Linked DNA regions of Homo sapiens. The protein of the gene in region 1 interacts with the protein of each later gene in a biochemical or structural test. Each region holds a gene or a part of one and is shown in the gene's direction. Other genes may lie near its edges.

Region 1 (3,284 bases):
GAATGGGATAGTTTTGTATCTAAGAACACGTGTGTTCTTCACAGTAGCCCTGTAAGGCAAATGTTTTACAGAGGCAAGTGTATCGATTGGCAGATGTGAGAACCAAGCTAGGACAAGTGCTTGGGAACTGCATAGCAAAGAGACAGACTGCCTCAAAACAGGAGAATGTTTTTGGTGCTTAGAAACCCATTCCTGGCCGGGCGTGGTGGCTCACGCCTGTAATCCCAACACTTTGGGAGGTCGAGGCAGGCAGATCATCTGAGGTCAGGAGTTCAAGACCAGCCTGGCCAACATGGTGAAACCCCATCTCTACTAAAAATACGAAAATTAGTCAGGCGTGATGGCAGGCACCTGTCCCAGCTACTCCGGAGGGTGAGGCAGGAGAATTGCTTGAACCCGGGAGCAGGAGGCTCCAGTGAACCAAGATCAGACCACAGCACTCCAGCCTGGGTTACAGAGCGAGACTCCATCTCAAAACAAACAAAAAGAAACCTGGGTCAGGCACGGTGGCTCACACCTGTAATCCCAACACTTTGGGAGGCTGAGGCAGGTGGATCACCTGAGGTCGGGAGTTTGAGACCAGACTGGCCAACCTGGTGAAACCCGCTCTCTGCTAAAAATTAGCTGGGCGTGGTGGCAGGTACCTGTAATCCCAGCTACTCAGGAGGCTGAGGCGGGAGAATCATTTGAACCTGGGAAGCAGAGGTTGCAGTGAGCTGAGATCATGCCATTGCACTCCAGCCTGGGCGACAGGGCGACAGGGCGAGACTCCGTCTCAAAAAAAAAAAAAAAACCTGGCCGGGCGTGGTGGCTCACACCCGTAATCCCAGCATTTTGGGAGGCCGAGGCGGGTGGATCACGAGGTCAGGAGATCAAGACCATCCTGCCTAATACGGTGAAACCCCGTCTCTACTAAAAATACAAAAAAAATTAGCCGGGTGTGGTGGTGGGCGCCTGTAGTCCCAGCTACTTGGGAGGCTGAGGCAGGAGAATGGCGTGAACCCGGGAGGCGAAGCTTGCAGTGAGCCGAGATCGTGCCACTGCACTCCAGCCTGGGCGACAGAGTGAGACTCTGTCTCAACAAAAAAAAAAAGAAACCTGTTCTTGAGTCTCAGCTCCTGGCTTAGTTAGTCATAAGGCCTCAAGAAAGTCATTCACCTCTTCCGGCTTCTCTTAGCTTGTTTGTAGAATGGGAATAACAGTTTCTATCTAGAAGGGCTTTGGGAGTGAATAAAGCAATCATGAGGCAGTGTAGTGTAATGGGTTAAGAGCACGGCGTTAGCCAGGTGGGGTAGCTCATGCTGGTAATTTCAGCACTTTTGGGAGCCCAAGGTGGGAGGATGGCTTGAGCCCAGGAGTTTGAGACCAGCCTGGGCAACATAGTGAGACCTCATCTCTACAAAAAATAAACAAAATTAGCCAGGCATGGTGACACAAGCCTGTAGTCTCAGCTACTCAGGAGGCTGAGGTGGGAGGATCGCTTGAGCCTTAGGAGGTCAAGGCTGTAGTGAACTGAGATTGTGCCACTGCATTCCAGCCTGGGTGACAGAGCAAGACCCTGTGTCAAAAAAAGAAAAAGCACAGGTCTTGGTGTCCCAGACCTAGGTGCAAGATCTTATCTCCCCCATGTCCTTTCTTAAGTAAGTTAACCTCTTCTAAGCCCTCATTTTCTCCACATGTAAAATGGGAAAACAGCAGTACTGTCAGTGGGGTTCTTGGGAAAAGTAAGCATGATAATATATCTGAAGCATGTTGCCTAGCACTTGATCATAGAAGCTGTTGCTATATTGTGGTTATTTTTTTAGATCATGAGTGTGAACACTCTTTCGGAAAGGTTAAGGAACTCAGTTGGGGAGCTCCTCAAGGGAAGCAAGTCCTCAGTCCCTGGACTAGACTTGGGCTCCGGGGCCAATTCATAGCAGGTGCTCAGAAAACATGTGTAGAGGGACAGGACCCAGGCCTAACCCTTTCCCTTGCACATAAAAGTGTCCACTATCCCATAGAGGGTGGGGAGGTAGGAGGGGAACTTAGGAAAAGCACTCTTGTGAGGTAGAGAGCTCACTTACTAGCCTAAGGACAGGAAGAACTTGAAGATGCCTGATGCTTGCCCTCCTCCTCACTCCCCGCAGGGCCAGAGGTGGAGGCTCATCTCAGGAAGCTGGGCCTGGGCTATCGTGCCCGTTACGTGAGTGCCAGTGCCCGAGCCATCCTGGAAGAACAGGGCGGGCTAGCCTGGCTGCAGCAGCTACGAGAGTCCTCATATGAGGAGGCCCACAAGGCCCTCTGCATCCTGCCTGGAGTGGGCACCAAGGTGAGGCCCCAGGGGGTAGGAGCTGCCCTCTCTACTGACACTAAGAGGAGAGCAGGAAATGAGCCAAGCCTGGGAGCTGGGTGGAGGCTTGGCTTCCGGAGGCAGAGCAGGAAGGAGAAAGGATATAAGTAGATGTTTTATGAGAGAAAAAAGCAGAGTGCAGAAAGAGTAGAAAGGATATAGCCCTTTGAATGAATTTCTAGAAAGACCATTTGTTCAGATGCAACACATATATGCTGCTATATATATGCAGCAATTTCCAGAAGGAAATTGCAGGAAACTAAATAATAGTTTCCTTGGGGGAGACAAATGGGAAGATATTTCTTCTTTTCGGTTTTTTGTTTGTTTGTTTGTTTTGGTAGAAATAGGCTCTTAACAATGTTGCCTAGGCTGGTCTTAAACTCTTGCCCTCAAGCAGTGTTCCTGCTTTGCCCTCCCAAAGTGCTGGAATTACAGGGATGAGCCACTGCTCCCGGCCACATTTTGTTCCTTTCGTAAAATGACATGTACTGACAAAACTTTTTGCTTGATGTCAATAGGGTTAACTGGCAATAAGATGACTGGAAATTAGGCATTTGTCTTTTTTTTTTTTTTTTTGAGGTGGAGTCTTGCTTTGTTGCCAGGCTGGAGTGCAGTGGTGCAATCTCGGCTCACTGCAACCTCCGCCTCCCGGCTTCAAGCTATTCTCCTGCCTCAGCCTCCAGATTAGCTGGGATTACAGGCATGCGCCACCACACCCAGCTAATTTTTGTATTTTTAGTAGAGATGGGGTTTCACCATGTTGGGCCAGGATGGTCTCAATCTGACCTCGAGATCCACCTGCCTCAGCCTCCCAAAGTGCTGGGATTACAGGCGTGAGCCACTGCACCCAGCCTTTTTTTTTCTTTATACTTCTCTGTAGTTTAAAAAATGAATTTTTGCTTAAAGATTTTTTTTTGATGGGCTTTGGACTACAGCCTAACATTAAATCTTG
Region 2 (4,076 bases), on another chromosome or scaffold:
GAACTCCTGACCTCAGGAGTTCAAGGCAAATGAGCACCAAATGCTAATTTAAGTGATCCACCCACCTTGGCCTCCCAAAATGTTGGGATTACAGGCATGAGCCACTGCACCTGACCTCAGTCTTTTAAACTGTGATAGATACAGATTGCTGACAGTTTTAGTCTTGAGATCTAGATTCAAGCCCCCAGCTCTTCCTCTTAATCGGTGACCTCAAGAAAATTGTTTCATTTCTCTAACCTGTTTTCTCATGTGTCCATTGGGAATAATGACATCCAAGCCCGGAGTTGTGAAAATTCGGTGACATAATGTCTGCACAAGTGCTCTGTCAACATGTAGGTGTTTGTGTAGAGGGAGGGATTTGTGTTTTTATTACTTAGTGGGTGATGATTCCACTGGGCTCTCTTATGATCAAGTGACTCCAGGGAAATCACATTTCATTCTGTTACCCCAGTTGCTGTGGAAACAGAGTGACTGGAGGCAGAAGAGACAGAACCTGTCTCTGGCCTGGGAGAGACTGAGGGAGTATTGCAGCGGTCACCAACATGGTAAACCCCAGAGGGAGCAGCTTGGGGAGGTGATGTGTTTCAGTTGGGATGTCCAGGTTTGATGTGACTTTGGGACATTCTAGGGGTGGCATCCAGGAGGCAGTTGGGGATCACATGTGGAGCTGAAGACAGAATGTGGGGAAGTTGTCAGTGCAGAGAAAGAACCTATAGACTCGGGAGTAGATGATGGATTTATTTGTTCATTCACTCATTTATTTAGTCAAGTATTTATTAAGTGCCTTCTGTAGGCCAAGCACTGTTTTAATACAGCAGTACACAGCAGAAGACAAAAAATATTCACTCTCAGTGGGGTGCAGTAAGCTCACGCCTATAATCCCAGCACTTTGGGAGGCCAAGGCCTGGCAGTTCGAGACCAGCTTGGGCAACACAGGGAAACTTCATCTCTACTAAAAATACAAAAATCTGCCAAGCGTGGTGGCCTATGCCTGTGGTCCCAGCTACTCCAGAGGCTGAGGCGGGAGGATCACTTGAGCCTGGAAGATCAAGGCTGTAGTGAGCTATGATCGCACCATTGCGCTCCAGCCTGGGCAACAGAATGAGATGCTGTCTCTTAAAAACAAAAGAAATTCAGTCTTGTGGAGCTTTCACGTTAGTAGGGAAAGACTGACAAATGAGTCAGTGAAACATATGTTGGATGATGAGTGCTATGGAGGAACTTAATGAAGGGGAATGAGAGTGCCCCAGCTGGAGCTGGAGCAGTGGCAAGGATTTTTATTTAAATAGTAGGGTCCGGGAAGGCCTCCCTGAAAAGGGGACATTTGAGCAACATGAGCTATGTATGTATCTAGGGAAAAGACTCTGAAGCTGGCTTGTGACAGCAAGGAGGCCAGTATGGCTGGGGTGGAGTCAGCCAGGGGGAGAGAGGTAGGAGATGAGGTAACAGGGTGGGACTGGGAACCCCTAAAAAACCACTTAAGGCCTGGAAAGCCATTGAAAGGACTTGAGCTTTTACTCCAGGTGTGAGATAGGAGCCACCGGAGGGCTCCGAGCAGAGGAGGGACAGGATCTGCCTTAGGCCTTCACAGGATCCTGCTGGCTCCATGTTGACAATCAACTGCAGGGGCCACACACAGGAGTGGGAGATCAGCATTGCAGCAGTTGTTTTGTTAACTTACTCCACGTCAGAGACCCTTTGGAATGACTGATTGCATCTGGCAATGACTAATTTGTGGGGTTACTCTGGATTCATCAAATGCTAATTTTGATTCTTTTGACGTAACTGATAAAGGCAGACATTTCTGGCCACCAAGGCAGTAGGCTTATCTCTGGGTTGTTATGTTATGTTTTGAGACAGGGTCTCACTCTCTTGCCCAGGTTGGAGTGCAGTTGCAAAGTCATGGCTCACTGTAGCCTCAACCTCCTGGGCTCAGGCAATCCTCCCACCTCAGCCTCCCAGATAGCTGGGACTACAGGCGTGTGCCGCCAGGCCCAGCTAATTTTAAAAATTTTTCGTAGAGATGGGGTCTCACTATGTTGCCCAGCCTGGTCTCGGACTCCTGAGCTCAAGCAGTCCTCCTGTCTTGGCCTCCCAAAGTGCTGGCATTACAGGCATGAGCCACTGCACCTGGCCACATCTGTGGGTTCTTCTACTACCCTGCATTTTCTCCTCTAATTATTGTTATGCAAAATCTCGATCTTACCACATGGGGCTTAGCCATCTGCTTATGACAGCCCCACACACCTGGTTGTTTGCAGTAGCCACAGCAGGCTCTGTTGTCTGTTCATCACCTGCTCCCAGAGGGAAATGCCAACCTCTTTGCTAACTACTCCTGGGCTGGAGGGGTGGCTTGGACAAGACCCAGATATAACTCTGGTGTGTCACTGGAGGTGTGTCATTTTTAGAAGAAATGTTCATCAGCAATAGGGCCTATGGTCATTTTTGATTGTTATTGGTTTTCTAATCACTCAGTTCGCCACTGTGGTGTCTTAAATTTGTTTTTACTGTTTTTTGATGTGTAACATACATAGAGTGAAGTGAAGGTGTAAGTAAGAGTACAGCTCAGTGACTCTTTGCAAACTGCAGCCCTGTGTACTCCACACCCAGATGCAGCACAGAACATGCCTAGCCCCCAGCAGTTCCCTCAGGTTCTTTCTGTCAGTACCCCTGCAAGGGTAACCACTGTCCTGATTGTTAACAGCATAGATTCATTTTGCCTGATTTTGAATTGCATATAAAATGGAATCGTGTGGTATAAACTTTTCTTATCTGGCTTCCCTTGTTATGTTTGTTCATTTCATCTATGTCGTTCAGTGTAGCTGTAGATGATTTATTGTGATTTTTTTTTTTTCTGAGACGGAGTTTCGTCTTGTTGTTCTGGCTGGAGTGCAATGGCACAATCTCAGCTCACTGCAACCTCCGCCTCCCAGGTTCAAGTGGTTCTCTTGCCTCAGCCTCCCAAGTAGCTGGGATTACAGGCATGCACCACCACGCCTGGCTAATTTTTTGTATTTAGTAGAGACAGGTTTTCACCATGTTGGTCAGGCTGGTCTCGAACTCCTGACCTCTAGTGATCCACCTGCCTTGGCCTCCCAAAGTGCTGGGATTACAGGCATGAGCCACTGTGCTCGACTCCTATTGTCTTTTTTTTTTTTTTTTGAGACAGGGTCTCACTATGTTGCCCAGGCTGGAGTGCAGTGGCACCATCTCAGCTCACTACAGGCTCGACCTCCCGGGCTCAAGCGATCCTCCCACCTCAGCCTCCTCAGTAGTTGGGACTACAGGCATGTGCCAGTTCACCAGTCTAATTTTTGTATTTTTTTTGCAGAGATGGGGGTCTCACTGTGTTGTCTAGGCTGGTCTTGAACTCCTGGACTCAAGCATTCCTCCTGCCTCAGCTTCTTAAATCCTTGGGATTACAGACATGAGCCACTGCACCTGGCCTATTGTCATTTCTGTATAGTATTCTGTTGTATTGAGATAACTATTATGGTTTTATTTATTTATATTTGATTTTCTTTTTTAAACGGAGTCTCACTATGTTGCCAAGGCTGGTCTTGAACTGTTGATCTCAGGTGATCCCCCAACTTGGCCTCCTGAGTAGCTAGGACTATAGGTGCACACCACCACACCCAACTAATTTTTTTTTTTTTTTTTAAGCTTTTTGGAGGCAGCTTCCTGAGTAGCTGGGATTACAGGGATTACAGACAGAGCCACAAAGACCTGGCCATTGGGGTTTTATTATATTTGCTTTCTGAATGGGTATTATATGCATATAGTGCAAAATTCAAAAGGTGCAAAAGGGTATACACTAAAAAGAAAATCTCCCCTCACCCTTTCCATCCCTCCCTGCTCCCTCCCCAACTCCTGCTCCCTCCCCAACTCCTGCTCCCTCATTCTTCTCTCCTGATGCAACCACCATTAGCAGTTTTTTTGGGTGGTCTTCCTGGGTCATTCTGTACACATACAAGCATATATACCTACCGCCTCCATCCCTTTTTAAAAAATTCATAGTATATACACTGTTCCCTTGTGTGTTTTTTTTCAAGTAACAGTGTATTTTGGAGATGCAC
Region 3 (3,531 bases), 4.4 Mb from region 1:
GGAGCCTGGGTCCGGGCTCTGGGGTCTACTGCCCCTGCTGCCCACACCTGCCTCTGTCTTGAATTGCCTGTGTCCAGGTTCTGGAAGACCTCACCCACTAAAGATTTTGGAGTCAGTAACGATTAAAAAGTTATCTGTTTTTGTGGCTTTCAGGTATAGTATATCACTTTGTAAATCAGATCAATTTTTTGGAAGTGAGACTTGGTGTGAAGGAGAGGCTATATTCTAAAGTGGTGTATATATCTGTCTTTACATTCACAGTTTCCATCTTAATATTTTTCCTGAAAATGTCAGTGCTTAACACTTTTCTCCCACTTCATTTTTGCCTGCAGAAAAAGGAGAAGCGGGCTCTAGGGAACTGGAAGTTGCTGGCCAAAGGTCTGCTCATCAGGGAGAGGCTGAAGCGTCGCTACGGGCCCAAGGTCAGTGCAGGTTCTTTGCAGAGAAGACAAGCTCAGGGTCAGTTTCTTGGAGATGCAGCTCAGAAAGGCCTGGCCCAGATTCTGCCCCAGCCTCAAGTCAGGGATAGCTTTGTGTTAGGACACCTCAGTCTTCTGTCTCTAAGGCCGCTTGTTTTTACCTTGTTGGGAAAGGTGTCCCTGGAGTGAGGCCTCAGCTGGCTCTTCTGCCCCAAGCCCTGTCCCAGTGTCCCCGTTTCTACTGTCCACATGAGCAATGCCATGGGTCTGATTTGGCGCTGAACACATAGGGAGGGCCAAGTGTCCTGCATTTGGTGCACCCTTCCGCCTTCCAGTGTTCCCAGTGCCTGTGACCATGCTGCAGGCCTGCAGTGGCCCGCTCAGTACCTCTCTCACAGCACCTGCCATGTGCCAGGCCAGGCTTGGACACAGGTGTGAATTTGACATGCAGCCCTCAAGGGGGCCCCTCCCTGGGGCAGATGGACCCTAGGCCCAGTTACATGGTATAGTCAGTGCTGTGTCAGACACAGCAGAAACTGCTCTGGCATGTTTTGTTCCCTCTCTCCAACCCTCTGTGCTGCCTGTTTGCCTTTCAACATTTTTTTGTCACGCTCCTCATTCCAGTCCCTCTGGTGGAGAAAAGCCCTTCATCTGACTTTATGTTCTGACCAGCTCCTTGCCGCCTTCTCCATCCAAACCCTCCCTAGCCATCCCAGCTGGCAGGGAGTGCCGCCTCAGATCTTAGGGCTCCGAGGGCTGAACTGTGCATCTTGCCCGTTCAAGACATCATGTGCTTTGGTCCAGAAATGAGGTAGCAAATGCAAGGCACGAATCACAGGCATCCCCAGATGAGGCAGTGTGCTCCTAGAGGGCAGCTTCCTGCCCAGCCATCATCCTTGTGTTCCCCTGCACTCAGCTCGTAGCAGGTGCTCCAGTGTCTGCTTGGATGCACCCCAGGCTGGGACGGCTCAGTAAGAAGGGTCTGGGCTCTCTCCCTGCCCTGTCCCATGCCCTTGTCCTCCCAGAGTTACACAGCTTAGGGCAGGCTGGGAACTTGCTGCCTCTTCATGGGGCTTCCTGGTATCTGATTACTAACCCTCGCCTGTGTCCTCCCACCACTGCCACCTGTCCAGAGTGAGGCAGCAGCTCCCCACACAGATGCAGGAGGTGGACTCTCTTCTGATGAAGAGGAGGGGACCAGCTCTCAAGCAGAAGCGGCCAGGATACTGGCTGCCTCCTGGCCTCAAAACCGAGAAGATGAAGAAAAGCAGAAGCTGAAGGGTGGGCCCAAGAAGACCAAAAGGGAAAAGAAAGCAGCAGCTTCCCACCTGTTCCCATTTGAGCAGCTGTGAGCTGAGCGCCCACTAGAGGGGCACCCACCAGTTGCTGCTGCCCCACTACAGGCCCCACACCTGCCCTGGGCATGCCCAGCCCCTGGTGGTGGGGGCTTCTCTGCTGAGAAGGCAAACTGAGGCAGCATGCACGGAGGCGGGGTCAGGGGAGACGAGGCCAAGCTGAGGAGGTGCTGCAGGTCCCGTCTGGCTCCAGCCCTTGTCAGATTCACCCAGGGTGAAGCCTTCAAAGCTTTTTGCTACCAAAGCCCACTCACCCTTTGAGCTACAGAACACTTTGCTAGGAGATACTCTTCTGCCTCCTAGACCTGTTCTTTCCATCTTTAGAAACATCAGTTTTTGTATGGAAGCCACCGGGAGATTTCTGGATGGTGGTGCATCCGTGAATGCGCTGATCGTTTCTTCCAGTTAGAGTCTTCATCTGTCCGACAAGTTCACTCGCCTCGGTTGCGGACCTAGGACCATTTCTCTGCAGGCCACTTACCTTCCCCTGAGTCAGGCTTACTAATGCTGCCCTCACTGCCTCTTTGCAGTAGGGGAGAGAGCAGAGAAGTACAGGTCATCTGCTGGGATCTAGTTTTCCAAGTAACATTTTGTGGTGACAGAAGCCTAAAAAAAGCTAAAATCAGGAAAGAAAAGGAAAAATACGAATTGAAAATTAAGGAAATGTTAGTAAAATAGATGAGTGTTAAACTAGATTGTATTCATTACTAGATAAAATGTATAAAGCTCTCTGTACTAAGGAGAAATGACTTTTATAACATTTTGAGAAAATAATAAAGCATTTATCTAAAGATTTGGCTCTATATTTTCTTTCAGATTTTTTTTTTTTTAAGGGGTCTTACTGTCTTGCGCAGGCTGGACTCCTGGGCTTGAGTGGTCTTCCTGAGGGCTTTGCCTCAGCTGGCCCTCACAACCACCGTGTGTGGTGGAAAGGCATTGTTCGGGAAACAGTCCCAGCTCCTCAGGACTGCAGGCACCCACACACCACTGCCGTGCCCAGCTTCTTTCAGATTTAAGTCGGTAATAACACCCAGGTGACAGAGCAATGTATTCATATGTTGAGACAGCATGAAAGAGTCCATTTTGTTTTCATGGAGGCTGGAAATTCATTACATATGGAATTCTTCTGTATTTAGTGAAGAGATGTTAATCTTTGAGAGGAGCCATTAAAAATCGGAGTCACTTTTATCCAAGGGAAACAAACAAAACACTTGAGTTATGACTCATATGTGGCAAGAGGCTGGCTGGAACCTCTTGTTGAGAAACAGACTGGGGTTGCTATGGAAACTGGTCTCACACTTCCTCACCAGAGCTCGGCCCTCCTATAGAGGCAACTTGTTTTCTGTTATTTTTTTTTTTAAATTATTTTTTGAGACAGGGAGGGTTCCACTCTTGCCCAGGCTGGGGTGCAGTGGTGTGATCCCAGCTAGTGGTGTGATCCCAGCTGACTGCAGCCTCAAGCAATCCTCTCAGCCTCCTGAGTAGCTGGGACCATGGGTATGCACCACCACGCTTGTCTTTCTGGGGTTTTGAGATGATGGCATTGCCATGTCTCTGCAGAAATAACTTCTTCAGGCATATGTCAGCTACAAGGAGGCATTATTTAAATGAAACAGTAGGTTCTGAGAAACAGAAGAGTAGGTTTGGGAAAGTTCTCACTCACGTGCTTGTAAAAAATAAAGCAAACTGCTAGCATCAGAGTGGGCAGTTAGCAGCCGCCTTTCAGAACAGGAAGCAAAATGAATGAAAAATTAATG

The links. Proteins that work in one complex are often made in the same cells at the same time.
Region 2: the proteins of OGG1 (region 1) and XRCC1 form a complex in vitro, tested with the Homo sapiens proteins (one study listed by BioGRID).
Region 3: the proteins of OGG1 (region 1) and XPC form a complex in vitro, tested with the Homo sapiens proteins (one study listed by IntAct).

Annotation. Positions count from the first base shown.
Region 1 is NC_000003.12:9,752,575-9,755,858, forward strand, and holds part of OGG1 (N-glycosylase/DNA lyase), read left to right. Parts: intron 1-2,129; coding exon 2,130-2,311; intron 2,312-3,284. UniProt on the Homo sapiens protein: DNA repair enzyme that incises DNA at 8-oxoG residues. Excises 7,8-dihydro-8-oxoguanine and 2,6-diamino-4-hydroxy-5-N-methylformamidopyrimidine (FAPY) from damaged DNA. Has a beta-lyase activity that nicks DNA 3' to the lesion.
Region 2 is NC_000019.10:43,568,562-43,572,637, reverse strand, and holds part of XRCC1 (DNA repair protein XRCC1), read left to right. Parts: intron 1-4,076. UniProt on the Homo sapiens protein: Scaffold protein involved in DNA single-strand break repair by mediating the assembly of DNA break repair protein complexes. Negatively regulates ADP-ribosyltransferase activity of PARP1 during base-excision repair in order to prevent excessive PARP1 activity.
Region 3 is NC_000003.12:14,144,181-14,147,711, reverse strand, and holds the end of XPC (DNA repair protein complementing XP-C cells), read left to right. Parts: exon of another isoform or gene 1-139; intron 140-332; coding exon 333-422; intron 423-1,552; coding exon 1,553-1,771; 3' UTR 1,772-2,565; downstream 2,566-3,531. UniProt on the Homo sapiens protein: Involved in global genome nucleotide excision repair (GG-NER) by acting as damage sensing and DNA-binding factor component of the XPC complex. Has only a low DNA repair activity by itself which is stimulated by RAD23B and RAD23A.